Linked DNA regions of Homo sapiens. The protein of the gene in region 1 interacts with the protein of each later gene in a pairwise test. Each region holds a gene or a part of one and is shown in the gene's direction. Other genes may lie near its edges.

What was found. Proteins that work in one complex are often made in the same cells at the same time.
Region 2: the proteins of NUTM1 (region 1) and MORN4 interact in binary tests that used the Homo sapiens proteins (3 or more experiments, as listed by UniProt).
Region 3: the proteins of NUTM1 (region 1) and ZMYND10 interact in binary tests that used the Homo sapiens proteins (3 or more experiments, as listed by UniProt).
Region 4: the proteins of NUTM1 (region 1) and HSPBAP1 interact in binary tests that used the Homo sapiens proteins (3 or more experiments, as listed by UniProt).

What each region holds. Positions count from the first base shown.
Region 1 is NC_000015.10:34,349,579-34,353,767, forward strand, and holds part of NUTM1 (NUT family member 1), read left to right. Parts: intron 1-1,125; coding exon 1,126-1,254; intron 1,255-4,157; coding exon 4,158-4,189. UniProt on the Homo sapiens protein: Plays a role in the regulation of proliferation. Regulates TERT expression by modulating SP1 binding to TERT promoter binding sites.
Region 2 is NC_000010.11:97,630,374-97,635,120, reverse strand, and holds the start of MORN4 (MORN repeat-containing protein 4), read left to right. Parts: upstream 1-1,620; 5' UTR 1,621-1,774; intron 1,775-4,747. UniProt on the Homo sapiens protein: Plays a role in promoting axonal degeneration following neuronal injury by toxic insult or trauma.
Region 3 is NC_000003.12:50,342,606-50,347,426, reverse strand, and holds the start of ZMYND10 (zinc finger MYND domain-containing protein 10), read left to right. Parts: upstream 1-1,694; 5' UTR 1,695-1,847; coding exon 1,848-1,939; intron 1,940-2,194; coding exon 2,195-2,303; intron 2,304-3,576; coding exon 3,577-3,693; intron 3,694-3,810; coding exon 3,811-3,864; intron 3,865-3,982; coding exon 3,983-4,120; intron 4,121-4,220; coding exon 4,221-4,309; intron 4,310-4,408; coding exon 4,409-4,509; intron 4,510-4,771; coding exon of another isoform or gene 4,772-4,821. UniProt on the Homo sapiens protein: Plays a role in axonemal structure organization and motility. Involved in axonemal pre-assembly of inner and outer dynein arms (IDA and ODA, respectively) for proper axoneme building for cilia motility.
Region 4 is NC_000003.12:122,790,705-122,795,475, reverse strand, and holds the start of HSPBAP1 (HSPB1-associated protein 1), read left to right. Parts: upstream 1-1,644; 5' UTR 1,645-1,795; coding exon 1,796-1,859; exon of another isoform or gene 1,860-4,771. Other genes in the region: SLC49A4 (solute carrier family 49 member 4), read right to left, coding at 1-283. UniProt on the Homo sapiens protein: May play a role in cellular stress response.

The sequences.
Region 1 (4,189 bases):
CCCTTCCCACCCAGACCCACTGTCCCTCTCAACTGCCCTGTGCCCTCAGCATTTTGTGTAAGCCGCTATATAACACATACCACATTTTATTGCTTTAAACAAATGTACATGGTGCTCTTCCAGTGGCTGAACTCCTAAAGGAATCCCTCTACCCCGAACTTGGAGCAAATGAATCAAGATGTTCCCCCAAAGTCCTAGATGTACAGCGTCTTCAGGCTCCCTGCTTTCTCAAGGCAGATCTGAGTTCGCTCTTGGAGCCTAGCAGGCTAAATTTCAAAATCTTGAACCAATGTGGGCTCTCAAGGTTTGCATGGGATCCATTTGCTTTGGGTCCTGGTCTGCTTGTGCTTCACACTCAGGGGCTCTGGGCAGGGTCTTCCACAAGAGGCAGTCCAGACCACTGCAACATGGGAAGCTCCTAAAATGCTCAGTTGTGGGATCCTGGGGAGCTGCAAGTTGATTATAACGAGCTTCCCCAAGCGATTCTGATGCCCAATAATGTCTGAGGACTCCAAGGGAGTCAGAGAGACAAAAATGAAGCCCTTGCTTTAGGCTGGGCTCTTGATTTCTTCTGGATTAGGAAGGGCTCAAGAGCCCTCTAGAAGTGGGGGTCTAGTACTGGCATTTAACTGTCTGTGGGGAATATCTGGAAACAAAGACTGAAAAACCAATAAATAAAAACACCACATGACCTTTAATTAGAGATTCCTTTGGGTTAGCAAATGCCTTTAAAGAAAAAATGCAAGAGCCTTTGGACAAGGTTAAACATACTTTATAGCAAATCCCATTCATTTAATAACGCGAGTCCTCCCTTTCTAATAATTAATTGAGGATGGCACTGTGATAATTAGGGGTGGTAGTTGCCATTGATTTTAAAAGGTGGGGAGAAGAATTGTCTGTTTGATTTTATATTAGTTGTAAAGTTCAACAGGAAGAGGGGCGAGTATGGTAGATGAATGGATGGGAGGTTGAGCGTCTGTAAGTCTAATCAGAAGTGGGACACGACAGGCCCTAAGGGGCACAATAGATTTGATGAGGGGCAGGGGATGTGTTATTGATGTAGGTGTCAGGGCAGGTGGATGGGAGCACACTTTTAGAATGTGACTGACTCAATGGGGGTTTTAGCCCAGTGCTTCGTTCCCTGGCCCGGCTGAAGCCCACTATGACCCTGGAGGAGGGACTGCCATTGGCTGTGCAGGAGTGGGAGCACACCAGCAACTTTGACCGGATGATCTTTTATGAGATGGCAGAAAGGTGAGTTCGATGAACCTTCATTCTCCTGAGGGAGGCTGTGTGGCTGAGAGCAGTAAGGGCCGCAGAGAGACTTGTGTGGGGGTGATTATCAAAAGCCATGTTAGGATGGGGCGCAGCGGCTCACGCCTGTAATCCCACCACTTTGGGAGGCCAAGGCCGGTGGATCACCTGAGGTCAGGAGTTCGAGAACAGCCTGGCCAACATGGCGAAACCCTGTCTCTACTAAAAAAAAAAAAAATACAAAAATTAGCCGGGCATGGTGGCATGTGCCTGTAGTCCCAGCTACTCAGGAGGCTGAGGCAGGAGAATCGTTTGAACCTGGGAGGTGGAGGTTGCTGTGAGCCAAGATCATGCCTCTGCACTCCAGCATGGGTGACAGAGCAAGACTCCATCTCAAAAAAAAAAAAAAAAAAAAAAAAAAAAAAAAAAAAAGGGATGTTAGGCTGGGTGTGTGCTTGTAGTCCCAGCTACTCTAGAGGCTAAGGTGGGAGGATGGTTTGGGTTCAGTAGTTCAAGACCAGCCTGGACAACATAGCAAGACCTCATCACAAAAAAAAAAAAAAGAAAAGAAAAGAAAAAAAGGGACGGGAGGAGGGGTGTAGACTAGGATGGCAGTTTCCTGGATCCTTGCTTCTTCTTCCACCACCTTGACTCTTGGGTTTTTCTATCCTGTTTCCTCTTGAAAGCTCCCCCCTCACCAGATCCTGAATCTGTATAGGAGCCTTGATATTGTAGGTCTTAGGATGGGATTGGAGATTGGACCCCGATAGATATAGAAATTTCATGCTGAAGGGACCTAGCAATGAGGAGGTGTGCTCTACCAGGCAGGTTCTTTTCTCTTCTCATTGACTTGGTAGCAAGTGGCTATTGATACAGAACTTCAGGACCACTCCTCCATTGGAAATAGTGGCACAGAAAATCCCTTTCCGCCTTTATCCCAGGGAGGGGGCTGGTTCTGGAAGAGCCGGGGAAAGCCAGTGTCCTGGATGCCCAAAGTTGTCTCCTGGCTCTTCTTCTATTTCTCTATAATATCTTTGATTAAAAAAAAAAAAAAAAGGCTAGGCGTGGTGGCTCCGCCTGTAATCCCAGCACTTTGGGAGGCCGAGGCAGGCAGATCACCTGAGGTCGGGAGTTCGAGACCAGCCTGACTAACATGGAGAAACCCCCATCTCTACTAAAAATACAAAATTAGCCAGGCATGGTGGCGCATGCCTGTAATCCCAGCTACTCAGGAGGCTGAGGCAGGAGAATCGCTTGAACCCAGGAGGCAGAGGTTGCGGTGAGCCGAGATTGTGCCATTGCACTCCAGCCTCGGCAACAAGAGCGAAACTCTGTCTCAAAAAAAGAAAGAAAGAAAGAAAAAACTCAGAAAAATGAACAGATTCTTCCAAGCTTAGCTTCCACTTACTCCCTCCCAAAACCTTTTGGACCCATGCTTCCTAGACTTACCTTTCCAAGAATCCCATCCCAGTCTCAGGACTCTGGGATCTCACATTGTTTCCTGGTAGGAACTGCCTTGAATTCTTTGTGGTTGTAGGCAGGGGCAAATGAGGTCTTGAGGAGGATCCCACTGTGAGATCCCACCAGGCTGTTGCATAGGCCTGATTAAGTTAAACAAGCCTATATTGAGCACTGCTGTGTACAATCCATGAAGCTGGGTGAGATAGGTACGGAAAACAAGTGAGGCCGGGCACATTGGCTCACACCTGTAATCCCAGCATTTTGGGAGGGTGAGGCGGGCGGATCATGAAGTCAGGAGATTGAGACCATTCTGGCTAACACGGTGAAACCCCGTCTCTACTAAAAATACAAAAAAAAAAAAAAAAAGCCAGGCGTGGTGGCACGCACCTGTAGTCCCAGCTACTCAGGAGACTGAGGCAGGAGAATCACTTGAACCCGGGAGGCAGAGGTTGCAGTGAGCCGAGATTGGGCCACTGCACTTCATCCTGGGCGACAGAGTGAGACTCTGTCTCAAAAACAAAAACAAGTACTGAAAGCCCTCACTGTGTCCAAGAGAAGTTTACAAGCTCTAGATCATTCTTAACTTTTTTTTTTTTTTTTTTTTTTTTTTGAGACAAAGTCTCACACTGTTGCCTGGGCTGGAGTGCAATGGCACGATCTCGGCTCACTGCAACCTCTGCCTCCTGGGTTCAAGTGATTCTCCTGCCTAAGCCTCCCGAGTAGCTGGGATTACAGGCACCCACCACCACATCAGGCTAATTTTGTGCATTTTTAGTAGAGACGGGGTTTCACTATGTTGGCCAGGCTGGTCTCGAACTCCTGACCTCATGATCCGCCCGCCTCAGCCTCCCAAAGTGCTGGGGTTACAGGCGTGAGCCACTGCGCCTGGCCTCATTCTTTACTTTTTAAAAATTTTCTTGAGGCAGGATCTCACTCTGTTGCCCAGGCTGGAGTGCAGTGGCACTGTCATGGCTCACTGCAGCCTTCACCTCTTGAGCTCAAGCGATCCTCCCACCTCAGCCCCACAATAGCTGTGACTAGACGCGCGTCATCACTCTTGGCTAATTTTTTTGGTATCTTTTGTAGAGATGGGTTTTTGCCGTGTTACCCAGGTTGGTCTCAAACTCTTGGGCTCAAGCAATCTGCCCACCTCAGCCTCCCAAAGTGTTGGGTTTATAGGCATGAGCCACCCCACCTGGCCATTCATTTTCTTAAGCTTCCTAAGTTATGACTATAGGGGAAGGAACTATGTGCTGAGCTCCTGAAGTTTCCCTGGAAATACGATTAAGCCACCTGTGACCACCCTCCTGGGTGACATGACTTAGGCAGACTTTGCCCACCTGAGAGCACTTCCTTTCTTGGCCATGCTTGGCTGTCGTCTGGATTTCTGATGGGTCTGGTCTCCTTCTCAGCATTGCCTATGCCTTTCTCACCCTCTGCAGGTTCATGGAGTTTGAGGCTGAGGAGATGCAGA
Region 2 (4,747 bases), on another chromosome or scaffold:
ACTAAGAGTCTGATACCTTTCTAAATCTGATAATAAACACTGGCCAGCCTTGGTGGCTCACACGTGTAATCCTAGCACTTTGGGAGGCAGAGATGGGAGGATCACTTGAGCCCAGGAGTTCAATACCAGCCTGGGCAACATGACAAAACACCATCTCTACAAAAAATACAAAAATAAGCCAGGCATAGTGGAATGAACCAGTAGTCTCAGCTACTTAGGAGGCTGAGGTGGGAGGATAACTTGAGCCTGGGAGGTCAAGGCTGCAGTAAGCCGTGATCCAGCTACTGCACTCCAGACTGGGTGACAGAGGGAGACCCTGTCTCAAAACAAAAAAAAAAATAAAGAAACATTTACAATCTATGCTCTCTGGAGCCTGCTACCTGTAGCCTTCTCTGCATAATAAAAACCTTGATTTCCACAATTCCTTGTGTGTGTGTGTGTGTGTGTGTGTGTGTGTGTGTGCGTGCATATCTTAGTAACAATTCCTTAACTTAACCCAGACATTCCCTTCTGTGGGTTCCAGGTCTTTAAACTCTTTCAACCAATTGTCAATCAGGACATCTTTGAATCCACCTACATCCTGGAACTTGCCACCCCCACCCCCACTTTCGGGACCAAGCCAATGTATATTTTACATGTATTGATTGATGTCTTACGTCTCCCTAAAATGTATAAAATCAAGTGGTGTCCCGACTATTTTGGACACACATTCTTAGGACCTTCTAAGGCTGTGTCACGGGCATGTCCTTAACATTGGCAAAATAAACTCCTAAATTGATTGAGACCTGTCTCAGATACTTTTTGGTTTGCAATTTATTTATTTGAGACAGGGTCTTGCTAGGTCGCCCAGGCTGGGGTACAGTGGCAGAATCATGGCTTATTGCAGCCTCAACCTCCTGGGCTCAAGGGATCCTCCCACCTCAGCCTCCTGAGTAGCTGTGACTACAGGCACCCACCACTAGGCTGGGTAATTTTTTTCTTCTGTAGATACGGAGTCTCCCTGCGTTGCCCAGGCTGATCTAGAACTCTTGGGCTCAAGCCTCCCGCACTCCTGAGCTCAAGCCGCGGCCTCCCGAAGTGCTGGGATTACAGATGTGAGCCACTGCGCCTGGCCAGGTACTATATTTTAAACAAAAAGGATCTAGATAATGACAAGGACAGCACAAATTCCTATAATGAATGCAAAAGTGTCTTGATATCACAATGTCTAGCACAGAGTTATTGGAGGCTATCCTGCCTAGCGCGTTACAATTTACAAAGCTGCCTCTCTGAAGCTGGATTTAGGATCTGCCTTAAACTCCGCGGCGGGGCCCTTGACAGCAGTGGGGACTGGAGCAAGATCAGAGCCGCTCGCGTTGATGGTCACTGTTGCTTCGGGCGCAGGTTTGGTTTTCTTTGGGGTTGCCATTTCAACTAGACGGCCTCTGGGTAGGCCAGATCTGGATCCTCTGTCTTTATCTGCGTTGCAGAGGTGGGACCACCCCTCTTTCACATAGTCAGCCCGGGTTCGCAAACACTCGGCCCCGCACAAAGATGGCGTGGAGCCGGGCTGGGCCAATGCGGAGTGGCGTTGCTCCCGGTTGCCTAGGTAACAGCCAATGGGCAGCGGGAATTGTACCCAGTGCGGTCGCCCAGGATGGCGGCGTCAAGTGGGGCAATCGCTGGTGGAGGTGGCGGAGAGCAAGGTGGCAGCCGGGAGCCCATCAGAGGAAAAGTCCGAGGCGCTGGAACCCTGCGTCCAGGCGTGACGGTCATCCCGAAAGGCCGGCCCCAGGTTGGCTGGAGGCGCAGGAGGGAGGGGGCCGGGAAAGAGTGTGATCGGTCAGGTGGGCACTGAGGAACGGAGCACGAGATGACCCGGCTCGGGGGCGCGGCTCCACCTCGGATACGCTGACCTGAGGGCGGTTGCCTGTGGGGGACCCAAACCTGAACCCTTTAGTCTCCACCGCGGGGGTCGAGGCCCGGGAGAGCTGACTGGACTGGGGTTAGCGAGCAGAGGGTGGAGGGTTGCATCAGGGGAATTGGCAGACCTGTGTGAGCGTTAGACCCTGCCGGGCGGGAGAGCGGGCCCGGATAGCAGGAAGGAACGCGCCTGGAAGGTGAAAATGGGGTGCGAGAAGGTGTTGCCTTGTTGTGGTCTAGGGCTTTGTTTTCCCTGAGCCCGCCTTTATCTCACTGGTGGAGAGAACTCCCACATATGGAAGCCTGGGGAATGGGATGCTTCATTTAGTTGATGGGTGGTATCCCTGCATTCTAGCATCTCTGAACTGCTTAGGTACCAGCAGGAATAACTGCTATATCGGAGTCCAGCCCTGGCATTCCCTTTCCCGTGAAATAGGATAGTATTCTGGCAGTATTACTCCCTAGTCCCAATCACCCCCAGGTCATCATCGCCTTTAAATAAAAAAAAAAAAAAATCTTTTTGGCGCCAGTATTTTCTTCCCACTTTCTTCAATCTAACCATCCCACAGTCTTCCCTAAACGAACCCTTCATATAGCAACGATACATTTCTTTACTTTTCACATGAGGAAAGAGGAGGTTAGACTTATAATGAAAAACAGTTATTTCGAGCTCCTTTTAAAACACTTAAAAAAAAATATTTAGGCCGGGCGCGGTGGCTCACGCCTGTAATCCCAACACTTTGGGAGGCCGAGGCGGGTGGATCACGAAGTCAGGAGTTCAAAACTAGCTTGGCCAAGATGGTGAAACCTCGTCTCTACTAAAAATACAAAAATTAGCCAAGCATGGTGGCACGTGCCTGTAATCCCAACTACCCAGGAGGCTGAGGCAGGAGAATTGCTTGAACCTGGGAGGCGGCGGTTGCAGTGAGCCAAGATCCTGCCACTGCACTCCAGCATGGGGGACAGAGCAAGACTCCGTCTCAAAAAAAAAAAAAAAAAAAAAAAAGGGGAGTATTATTTGACTTTTTGTTCTAGGTTCCTAACAAGGCTAATCTTTGTTCATCAAAGCCTTCATTTTCTTCTCTTTAGGATTCTAAAAGCTTATGAACTGCTTTCTTTATTACTGAAATAATTTGACAAGACTATTGTACCCTGGGAAGGGTGGTTCTGGGGGGACATGTGGGTAGTTAGGGTGGCTGCCTCCACCCAGTATTCTCTAACTGGATCTCCCCCACCGCCCCAACCTTTTGTTTTGTTTTGCTTTTCTTTTCTTTTTTTTGAGACAAGGTCTGGCTCTGTTGCCCAGGCTGGAGTACAGGTGTGGTGCAGTCACTGCTCACCCCGGCAGCCTCAAATTGTGGGCTCAAGCAATCCTCCTACCTCAGCCTCCTGAGTAGCTGGGACTACAGGCATGCACCACCACACCCAGCAAATTTTTGTATTGTTTTGTAGAGATGAGGTCTCACTACGTTTCCCAGCTTGGTATTGAACTCCTGGGCTCAAGCGATCCTCTTGCTTCAGCCTCCCAACGTGCTGGGATTACAGGAGTGAGCCATCATGCCTGGCCCTTTTTCCTCTTTATGTCAGTTTTTTTTTTTTTAATCCTCTTAAATTGGACACAGTTTACTGTGAATACAAAAATGTTGTTTAATACGTTGATTTCTTAAAATTAGAAAACGATAAAAAGAACGGAAACAAAAATTCTCGTTATTGCCTCAGAGTTCTGTTTGGAAATAAGAAAATAATAATAATTAAAAAGAAATGTCTGGGACAAAAGAAAATGAAGATACCAGGAATATGGTATATAGTGCAGACTAATAGTGTGTTGGTTTACAGGGACAGAATAGTAATTTTCTTTTATGTAAATGTTTGGACTGATCCTTTGCAACCCATCTATCAGGAGTGCAGAAAGGGTGAGTGTCTGTTTAGAAGTGTGAATCATCTTGGTTTGTGACTGGATTCCATGGGTGTATCTGTAGCCTAAACTCCTGAGCCATATATTCTCTTTAAAAATATGATTTGGATAACTGATAGAAATACTGATTTGCATCCCTTATTAAAGTATTGGGCCAGACATGGTGGCTCCCACCTGTAATCCTAGCACTTTGGAAGGCTGAAGCAGGCAGATCACTTGATCCCAGGAGTTCAAGACCAGCATGGGCAACGTGGTAAAACCCTGTCTCTACCAAAAAATGCAAAAATTAGCTGGGTGTCGTGGCATGCTCCTGTAGTCCCAGCTACTCAGGAGGCTAAGGTGGGAGGATGGCTTGGGCCCAGGAGGCAGAGGTTGCAGTGGCTGAGATGACGCCACTGCACTCCAGCTTGGATGACAGAGCCAGACTGCCTCAAAAAAAAAAAAGTATTGGGCTTTCAGTCTTCATCGGCACTGACTATACTTTGTTAAACTAGGTTTGTCTCAATGACCATGGTTACTGGTGAAATTCCTTTTTAGGTCAGTAGCTGTAAAGCTATTCATTAGCATGGTTAATTATAAAAGTCATAAAATCCAGACACTGTCCCAAATAGTGACAATATCAACTATTTGGGCACATGTGACAGTTTCTAGCCAAATGTATTCAACCATGGCCTGAGACTCATGGATTCTACACACATTCCCTTTCATTAGCACTTCTGACTGTGGTCTTGGCAATGGACATCATTTTGGCAAGCATTTGCTGAAGGGAATTTGCTATATGTGCCTAAGTCAAAATGGAATGGAAGTTTGTAGTATGTACTGTTGAAAACCAATGGGAGAGGATGGTGGGAGGGTTAGGTTGAAACATGGTATTCCAGTTATTATTGCTGTATAACAAAGTACCCCAGAATTTAGCAGCTTAAAACACCC
Region 3 (4,821 bases), on another chromosome or scaffold:
GAGCCGTGGGCTAGATCGCCATCTGGTGGGCAGGACCGACAATCGACAAATAAAAGTGCCGGTTAATTACAAAAAAAAAAAAAAAAAAAAAAAAAAATCGTCCTGATGCGGTGACTCACCTGTAGCCCCAGCTACTCAGGAGGCTGAAGTGGGGGGATCATTTGAGGCCACGAGTTGGAGGCTACATTTAGCTGTGATCCCATCACTGCACCCCAGCCTGGGTGACAGAGCAAGACCCCATCTCAATAATAATAATAATAATAAATAAACCTAGAAAGAAGCAGATGTAGCCAGGCGCGGTGGCTCATGCCTATAATCCCAGCACTTTGGGAGGCTGAAGCGGGCAGATCACCTGAGGTCAGATGTTCAAAAACAGCCTGGCCAACATAGTGAAACCCCATCTCCACTAAAAAAAAATACAAAAAATTAGCCAGGTGTGGTGGTGCACACCTGTAATCCCAGCTACTCAGGAAGCTGAGGCAGGAGAATCACTTGAACCTGGGAGGCAGAGGTTGCAGTGAGCCAAGATCATGCCACTGCACTCCAGCCTAGGTGACAGGAGACTCAATTTCAAAAAAAGATGTGATCAAGAGTGAGTTGGGTTGGAGGCAGGGACTGCTCTGGATTAAATGGCCAAGAAAGGCCATGCTGAGGTGTAAACTGAGCCCTGAAGGAAAAGTATTCCAGGCAAAGTGCAAAACTCTGAGGCAAAAACCTCTTTGGAATGTATGAGGGAGGTTCAGGGAAGCAAGGAGGAGAGGAAAGAATCCAAGTCCCGAGGTACAGGAGAGGACAAGAAGTAGATCTTGCAGAGCTGCTAGTAAGCGGCATCCCACCTAACATTTTGAGGGCCAGAAGTAGCCACAGAGCCCCTCTCACGCAAGGGAGTAATGTCTATATGCTTTTTTTTTTTTTTTGAGACGGTCTCCCTTTGTTGTCCAGGCTGGAGTGCGGTGGTGCAATCTTGCCTCACTGCAAACTCCACCTCCTGTGCTCAAGCGATTCTCCTGCCTCAGTCTCCCATGTAGCTGGGACTACAGGTGTGTGCTACCACACCTGTCTAATTTTTGTACTTTTAGTAGAGACAGGGTTTCACCATGTTGCCCAGGCTGGTCTCAAACTCCTGACCTCAAGTGATCCGCCTGCCTCGGCCTCCCAAAGTGCTGAGATTACAGGTGTCAGCCACCGCGCCCGGCCTGATATACACTTTTAAGGCTCCGGGCTGTCCATGAGGATCAAGCGTGGAAGTAGGTCTACAGAAAAGGCTGCCGCAGTTCACCCATGACAGGTGATGACAGTCTGGACATAGGGAGGATGGAGAGAAGTCGTGCGCCCTGGCAGTATTTCAGGAGCCAACTAGTGGAGCCGGGACGCGAGAAATAGAGGAACCAAGAAGCCATAAGGAGGAGGAAGAGCAGCGGGTAGGTCAAGATGCCACAGCCGCAGGAGGGGCTGTTGGGGTCGGGGTTACCCCCATCCCTGTGCAGGCGGACTTGGCGTCTGAGGACAGAGTCCAGACCACAAGGATCTGGAGCTCAGGAGAGACTCGTGGGCCACAGCCCGAGAAAGCGCTGGGAATCCAAATACTATGGCGATTGGCAGTCGCGTAGGCGAGGCGGGCTAGAGACCCGCCCGGATTTAGGCGCGAGCCACCTCCAGGGGCGGGGCCCAGGCCGCACTGCGCAGGCGCGGCTAACCCGTTTCCATGGCTGCGAGAACTGACGCTCCCCAACCGTCCCGCAACTGTCCTGTCCCAGACTTTGGCACCGTCGGGGTCCGTCGTCCCCGAATGTGACAGCATCCCCACCCCGGCTGCTGCCCAGGATCCGCCGGACCCCGGCCTCGATATGGGAGACCTGGAACTGCTGCTGCCCGGGGAAGCTGAAGTGCTGGTGCGGGGTCTGCGCAGCTTCCCGCTACGCGAGATGGGCTCCGAAGGGTGAGGCACCCGGGTCAGGCGGAGTCCCGGAGTCATTGTCCTTGAGTCGGGGAGCTGGGGCCTGACTCGGGGGAGGGGCTGCCCAGTGTGGAGGGGCTCCCAAATGGGGGAGCAGAGCGTTCCGAGACAGGAGTATTACTGCTCCTGAGCCCCCTGTGTCCCCTCAGGATCAGGTTAGGCTTCAGTAGGATCCAGCCCCCATCCCCACTCCTAATGCACACACGTGGACGCACATGCACTTACCCTCTGAGGCAGGTGGAACCAGCAGCATGAGAACCTGGAGAAGCTGAACATGCAAGCCATCCTCGATGCCACAGTCAGCCAGGGCGAGCCCATTCAGGAGCTGCTGGTCACCCATGGGAAGGTACCCCGAGGTCACAGGCAGGGTTCCTGCCTTCCCCCATACCTCACCTACTCTACCCCTCCGGAGTCCCCTGTGTGCCCTTCCCCTCTGGCCTGGTACACCTGTTCTCCCTGAAGGACAAAGAGGAATGTGTTACATGTTTCATTTTGTATCCCTATTGGACAGGACTCTGGCACACCAGGCTGGGTGCAGGGCATGAGTTGATTAGGGAGAAAGCTGTAGGTCCTAGAACAGCTTAGGCTTCAAGGGGAAGGCCCAAATGCTAAAGGCATCTGTGAATTGACTGTAAGGCTGGTGGTGGGGAAGGGGTGGGGAGGGGTTGGGGAGGGCGGGAGGGAGGGGAGATAACCTAACTGGAGGTGGAACTTCGGCATGGAAGGAAGCAGCCTTCCCAACATGAAAGGGGGAAGTTAGAAACCAGGGAGATGCCTGGCTGGAACATGGACCAGGGAGTGTCACCAGCAGATGACCTGAGATATCAATTGACCAAAAAAAAAAAAAAAAAAGCCGGGCATGGTAGCTCATGCCTGTTATCCCAGCATTTTGGGAGGCCAAGACGGGTGGATCATCTGAGGTCAGGAGTTCAAGGCCAGCCTGGCCAACATGGTGAAACCCCACCTCTACTAAAAATACAAAAATTTGCAGAGCATGGTGGTGCACACCTGTAATCCCAGCTACTCGGGAGGCTGAGGCAGGAGAATCGCTTGAACCTGGGAGGCAGAGGTTACAGAGAGCCAAGATCATGCCACTGCACTCCAGCCTGGGTGACAAGAGTGAAACTCCGTCTCAAAAAAAAAAAAAAAAAAAAGAAAGGTCCTTTGCAAAAGAAAGATGGAACTCATACTAGGGGATAGGATAGGAACAGGGCACTGTGAAGGGTCCTGAGTAGGAGTGAGGCCAAGGCACACAAGAGCTTTGGAGGACCACAGACAGGGACTAGAGGGAGGGCATGAGGAGAAGGGCTGGCTTGAAAGGGATGCCTGAATGGGCGGGCAGAGGATAAGGGTGCAGGTGCAGGCAGGGCAAGGCAGTCTGGGAACTGGGCAGGAGCCAGTCACATAAGCATGAGGGACATCCACAGAGGTGTTGGGAGCAGCTGGTAATGAAGGTCCAAGGTGCAAGAGAGAAGTCAGGAAGGATACTCATGGGTCTGGAATAGTTTAGGGGCCCAGCAGTGTTTGGGGATATCAGGGTTGAGCTGAGCCGGGGATGGGAGGGTTGCCAGGCAAAGGTAGGCCCATCTCATCCCTGTCCTTTACCCTACCCTTCAAAGGTCCCAACACTGGTGGAGGAGCTGATCGCAGTGGAGATGTGGAAGCAGAAGGTGTTCCCTGTGTTCTGCAGGGTGGAGGACTTCAAGCCCCAGAACACCTTCCCCATCTACATGGTGGTGAGCTGGGCCCCTGGTTCATACCTCTTCTCACTCCTTCAGAGGGCTCTGGACCGGGGAGGAGAGCTGGTAGCCCCTATCCCTTCCTCAGGCCCTGTCCTTCTCTTTATCTGACAGGTGCACCACGAGGCCTCCATCATCAACCTCTTGGAGACAGTGTTCTTCCACAAGGTGAGGGACTATCTCTGCCCATGGGCCACAGTTCCGGGTCAGGGCCTGGCAGGAAGGGAGATTGTGTCTGTGTGGGGAAGGCATCAGACACAGAAAGTTTCCCTCCTCCTTTTCCCAGGAGGTGTGTGAGTCAGCAGAAGACACTGTCTTGGACTTGGTAGACTATTGCCACCGCAAACTGACCCTGCTGGTGGCCCAGAGTGGCTGTGGTGGCCCCCCTGAGGGGGAGGGATCCCAGGACAGCAACCCCATGCAGGTGGGTTGAGGTTACCTAGGGTTGTGAAAGCCTAGGTCTGGGTTCCCCAAGGCCTGCGCAGGTGAGGGTGGCCCAGCGTGAACACTGTGTGACCTCCCAGGAGCTGCAGAAGCAGGCAGAGCTGATGGAATTTGAGATTGCACTGAAGGCCCTCTCAGTACTACGCTACATCACAGACTGTGTGGACAGGTGAGCAGTCCGACTGGGCCTGGGCCTACTGTGGAGGGCTGGAAGACCGGGCCTGTAGCCTGCCTCTACTCACCTCCTTCACAACGTCCCTGCCCCTAGCCTCTCTCTCAGCACCTTGAGCCGTATGCTTAGCACACACAACCTGCCCTGCCTCCTGGTGGAACTGCTGGAGCATAGTCCCTGGAGCCGGCGGGAAGGAGGTAGGGTCCTCCCCCACCAGCCTAAGCCCCAGGCTACTGCTTCAGGGTATCTTTTTGATAGAGGGGGGCAGCTTGCACACACGAAGACAAACCCTGTCCCCAAGCCCACTGAGGATACCAGGATGCCTCAGCCAAGGTTGGCCTAGACCTGAGCTCTGCAGCAGGCCAGGCCCATGTGTCCACTACTGAGGCTCACCCTGCTCTGGGGTCAGCAGCCCTATAGCCTGGGCAAGTCCTGCAGCCCAGGTTCTCCCATTCCCAGGCAGTGGTCAGTCTCCCAGCCCCCACAGCTGGCTCACTTGAAGAGAATTC
Region 4 (4,771 bases), on another chromosome or scaffold:
GCACGAGCAGCGCGATGTCCCAGCTGGAGAAGCCGTAGGCCTGGCGCGCCGAGTTCTGGATGGGACCCCAGGTGTTCCAGACCAGGCCCTGAACGAACGCCAGCAGCGAGAAGAGCAGCAGCACCAGCCAGCGGCGCCCGTATACCCGCCCGGGACCCGGGACCGCCGCGGGCAGCGCCGCCGCCGCCGCCTCCCGGCTTCTCCAGGAGGCCCCCAGCCCAGGCCCGAGCCCGGGCCCCAGCAGCGGCTGCCTCTCCTCTTCGCTGCTCCAGCGAGAGCCCATGGCGACGCGTCGCCCGCGAAGCCACTGCCGGGCGCAGTCCGGGTCACCGCCGACTAGCCCAGCGCAGAATAGTCCTGAGCAGCAGGAGGCGGAGGCTGCTGTGGTCGCCCTCGGCCTCCGGACCGCGCCTGGTGCGCCTGCGCGGCCCGAGCCGGGCCGGCGGGGAGGCGGGGAGGCGGGGCAGGCGGCAAGGAGGCTGGGGTCCGCCCTCCCCTCCGCGGGTGGCGAGGAAACACCGGCGAGAGGAAAGGAGCCAGGTCCCAGACGGAGGGCAGGTAGCGCTGAAAAGGCAGGGACCAGCGCGGCTGAGTCGGGGAGAGGGAAACTCCCAGAGAGGCTGTATTCGAGGAGGTTGGGCAAGGAACCCTGGGGTGTTTGGAGGAAGTGTCCAAGTTAAATCTTGTGCCTAATAAACAACTCAGTGACCTGTTAAGTGACGTCAGTTAACCTGATGCTTGCTTCTATTTTGGGCTTATTCTCATTTTTGTTGAGTTAGTAACTTCAGAAATTATAGGCGAAGGATAAAGTTTAAGCGTAGTTGGTCCCAGGGGATTATCTCATAAAAATCATTTCTTACGTGCAATAAGTACTACCTATTTTTGTTACTTTTTTGTCTTACATATCCAAAGAGGAGATTCCAAACTAGCCAATTTCATTCATATATATGTAAACTTTACCCATTTCGCCTGCCAATAGGCGAGCAATAAAGGTATGTCCAGTAAAGTTGGAAGATTTTTGCCCCAAAGATCCATCTCCAGTGATTATGATTTGACCACAGGGTAAACGAGAAGAAAGGTGGTTGTTGATCTCTTCACACAGCTGTTTGTTTATTTTGGTATACAAATTCAGAAGCCTGACAGCTGTGGATTAGTGTCCTTGAAAACCTAAAGTCAAGCAATTTGGCTTGTCTGGATCGGGAAATGAGTCACAGGGAACGCAATCACAGGATTCTTTGCCCGAGGTTCGTATTTCCCGGCAGCCACTAAAATCAGAAGGAGTCAGGTTACCACCAGAAGGGCAAGAGAGGTGTAAGAGAAGCGTGAGCTAGCCTCGCATTCCAGGCTGCCAAGAGCGGCTCGCGAAAGCTCACGGCAGAGACCCATCCCACCGCCGGAGCCCCACTAAGCGGCAAACCTTCCCCTAAAACTCCAATCCTTTAGGGTGGAGAAAAGCCGAGGTGGAAAGGAAGGATCTGACTAGAAAAGGAGAAACAGAAACGAAGCTAAGACTACAATAAAGAACGCTAAGGTCCGGGTTAGGTAAAAAGCGCCACAACTCAGACCACGTGTTTGTATTTCCACACCCGGGGTATCAAAACAAAGCTGCGTGGTCCCGCCCAGCATCCGTCACGTGACCTCCACGTGAGAGCCGGCGTTTCCGTAGGAGCCGGGCGGGAGTCGCCGGGGCTCCTTCCTGTGGTGCAGCTTCGGGTCTCGGAGTTTGGCCCCTACTCTGACCCCACCCCAGCTCCGCTCCGCCTTGGGTTCCGGCAGAACCCGCCTTGCGGTAGCCATGGCAGCAGGCTCCGAGGCGACCACTCCTGTGATCGTTGCGGCTGGGGCTGGAGGGGAGGAAGGTAGGTGCCAGGCTGAGGTCCGACCCTGAGTACAAACCCAATGCCAGTTGACTCTCGTGGCACCCCTCGTGGGGCCGTTTGCCTTAGCCCCAACCCAGGTCTCTCTGGCCTTGCATTAGACTATGAAGAAAAATCTATATTTTCTAGTGAGCGTGGCATTTCTCGAATTGTGGCATCCAGATTTTTGATCGTCGTAGGGTAGCCTACGAGTGCTGTTTCACGCATGGGGTGTTATTTTTGTTTTGTTTTGTTTTATATTTGCCCATCATTAGCTAAATAGAGGTGTTTTGAACGTTTAGAGGGGATTAAAATTAAATTTGTGAAATTGAAGGCAACCTTTGAGATTAATGGAAGTTATCTGAGACTTTTGTGAACAGGGATTATGCGCTTTTATTCTATTTCAGTGAACCCTGGTTTAGCAAGTGGGGATGAGGTTTGGAGGCCCATGAGCCTGAGATCCCTGTTATTATTTATTGAATGATTGCACCGTGCAGGGCTGTGTTCTGAATACTGTCGCAGGATCCAGAGACTTTTGAATATTTATAACAATACCTTTTCCAAAGGAGCCTAGAAAGGAAAAAGAATGACTTACTATGTGGTCACCTGAACTATTCTACCAGTAGTACACTCTGTGAGGGTTGTTAGGAGGAGGGATCTCAGTGGGGAGAACATAAATGCTTCAAGGAGCGAATAGTTTGAGGTCGGCCTTTCTTTTTCTTTTCTCTCTTTTTTTTTTTTTCTTTTTTTGAGACGGAGTCTCGCTCTGTCACCAGGCTGGAGTGCAGTGGCGCGATTTTGGCTCACTGCAACCTCCACCTCCCAGGTTCAAGCAATTCTTCTGCCTCAGCGTCCCAAGCAGCTGGGACTACAAGCGTGCCACCACGCCCAGCTAATTTTTGTATTTTTAGTAGAGACGGGGTTTCACCATGTTGGCCAGGATGGTCTCGCTCTCTTGACCTTGTGATCCGCTGAGGTGGGCCTTTCTGATTGGATGAGATGGTGACAAACTCAGGGAGTGGTGCTGGGGTTCAGGAAGTCAGGGAGCAGAAAAGGATGGATGTATTTAGGGGTCAAACAGTTTGCTGAAGGGGGAGATGCCCATTCCAAGCAGAAGAAACAAATTATAGCCTCCTACTATCTGACCACTTTCTACCAGGGAGACAATTCTTGACCTTCATCTATACCTCCATTGCATTGATCTTTCCATTTTCTATCCACTGCACCCCCTTATCCAGAATGTATGTCGTTCCTTTGAAAAATTCTCTTGTCCCTTCCTGCACTTTTTTCTGACAAAACTCTTACTCTGGATGAAGTCAACCTTTTGCCCTCTTTGTACCTGCACCCGTGGGCCTGAACTTTGCTGGAAAAAGTCCTGCACAAACTGATGACCGTATAAAGTGAAAATGGCCAAACTCTTGAATATTCAGTCAGTATGGGCTTGAGATCCCTCTGATCCTCTGTTTCTCTAGTGAGCCTGCTAACGTTCTCCAATGACAAATTCCCAAACTCTATAACCTCTCTCTGCCTCTTTCTTAATTTCAGGTAATGACTTTGCAAGTCAGGTCAATTCTGCATCTAATCTGTCTACTTTTTTCCTTTCACTATCAGACCGTACTTCAAATCATCCACATTTTCTCACCTCAACTACTACTGTATCTTCCTGACTGACTTGTGTCTCTGTTTTCTATTCTGTGCCCCTCTAATCCCTTCTCCACTCTGCAGCAAAAAGTGACTCTTCCTTATGTAAAATTCTTCAGCGAATTACATTGCCCTTAGAAGTTAGAATAAAACCCAGATTCTTAACCGTGGCCTGTAATAATCCTTGGTCTGGGCTCTGCTGATGTCTTTAGCAGGATCTCTTGTCACTCACCTCCCCTTTGGCTTTTCACATAGCTGGCTTAATCTTTAGCTTTTAAAGTATGTCACCACCTGAGACCTTACCAGATCAAACTATTTAAAACAGTCACTGTGATTTCTCTTGCACCCCCCAACCCTAGATGTTCTGGAATACAGCATCCTGCTTCTGTCATTTTACTTACTACAATCTGTAATTATTTATTATTTGTTTTTTCCATTAGATCATAAGTACCTTGAGGGCAGGACCTATGTCTGTTTCATTCTCTACCATGTGCCCAGCTGCTAGTACAATGCCAGGCACATAGTTGGCACATGCCACATGTTTGTTGAGTGGATGAATAAGGGCACTCCATGCCAAGTCCAGAGGCAAAAGGAGAAAGCATGGCATGGTCCAAGAACTGAAAGAAGTTGGTGTCAGGAGTGGTAAGAAAAGAGGTATCCTGAAGGTTACCTTAGGCCTAGTTAAGGAATCTAGACATTAAGACAGTAGGAAGCCTTAAAGAGCTTTAGGTGAGGGAAATAACATGATTAGATTTGGTTGTAGGAAGATCACTTTGGCTGAAGGGTAGAAGACCGATTGGAGGGAGAAAGACTGGAGGACAAGGTACTTAATCCCTTTGAGCCTCAGTTTCCTCCTCTGTAAAATGCATGATTATTGTGAAGATTAGAGTTAATATGTGTAGATTATCTAGCATAGTATCTGGCAGGAATTGGATATTCAAGAATCGTGACCATTTTTATTATTAATAGAAAGTGCCAGCCTTAGTAACTGATGTTGAAACTGAAAGAAAAGAAATTAGAGATGTTATGTAAGAGAATGAGAAAAATAAATACATTAAATAAAGTCAAGTGAAAGGGTCAGTATGTTCAGTACAATGATGAATACAATGGGAGTCATAGAAAAGTTCATTTTTAAAATTTTTGGTTTATTTTTTATTTTTGTAGATACAGGGTCTCACAATGTTCCGTAGGCTGGTCTCGAACTCCTGGCCTCAAGTGATGCTCCCACCTCAGCCTCCCAGAGCACTGGGATTTCAGGCATAAGCCACTGTGCC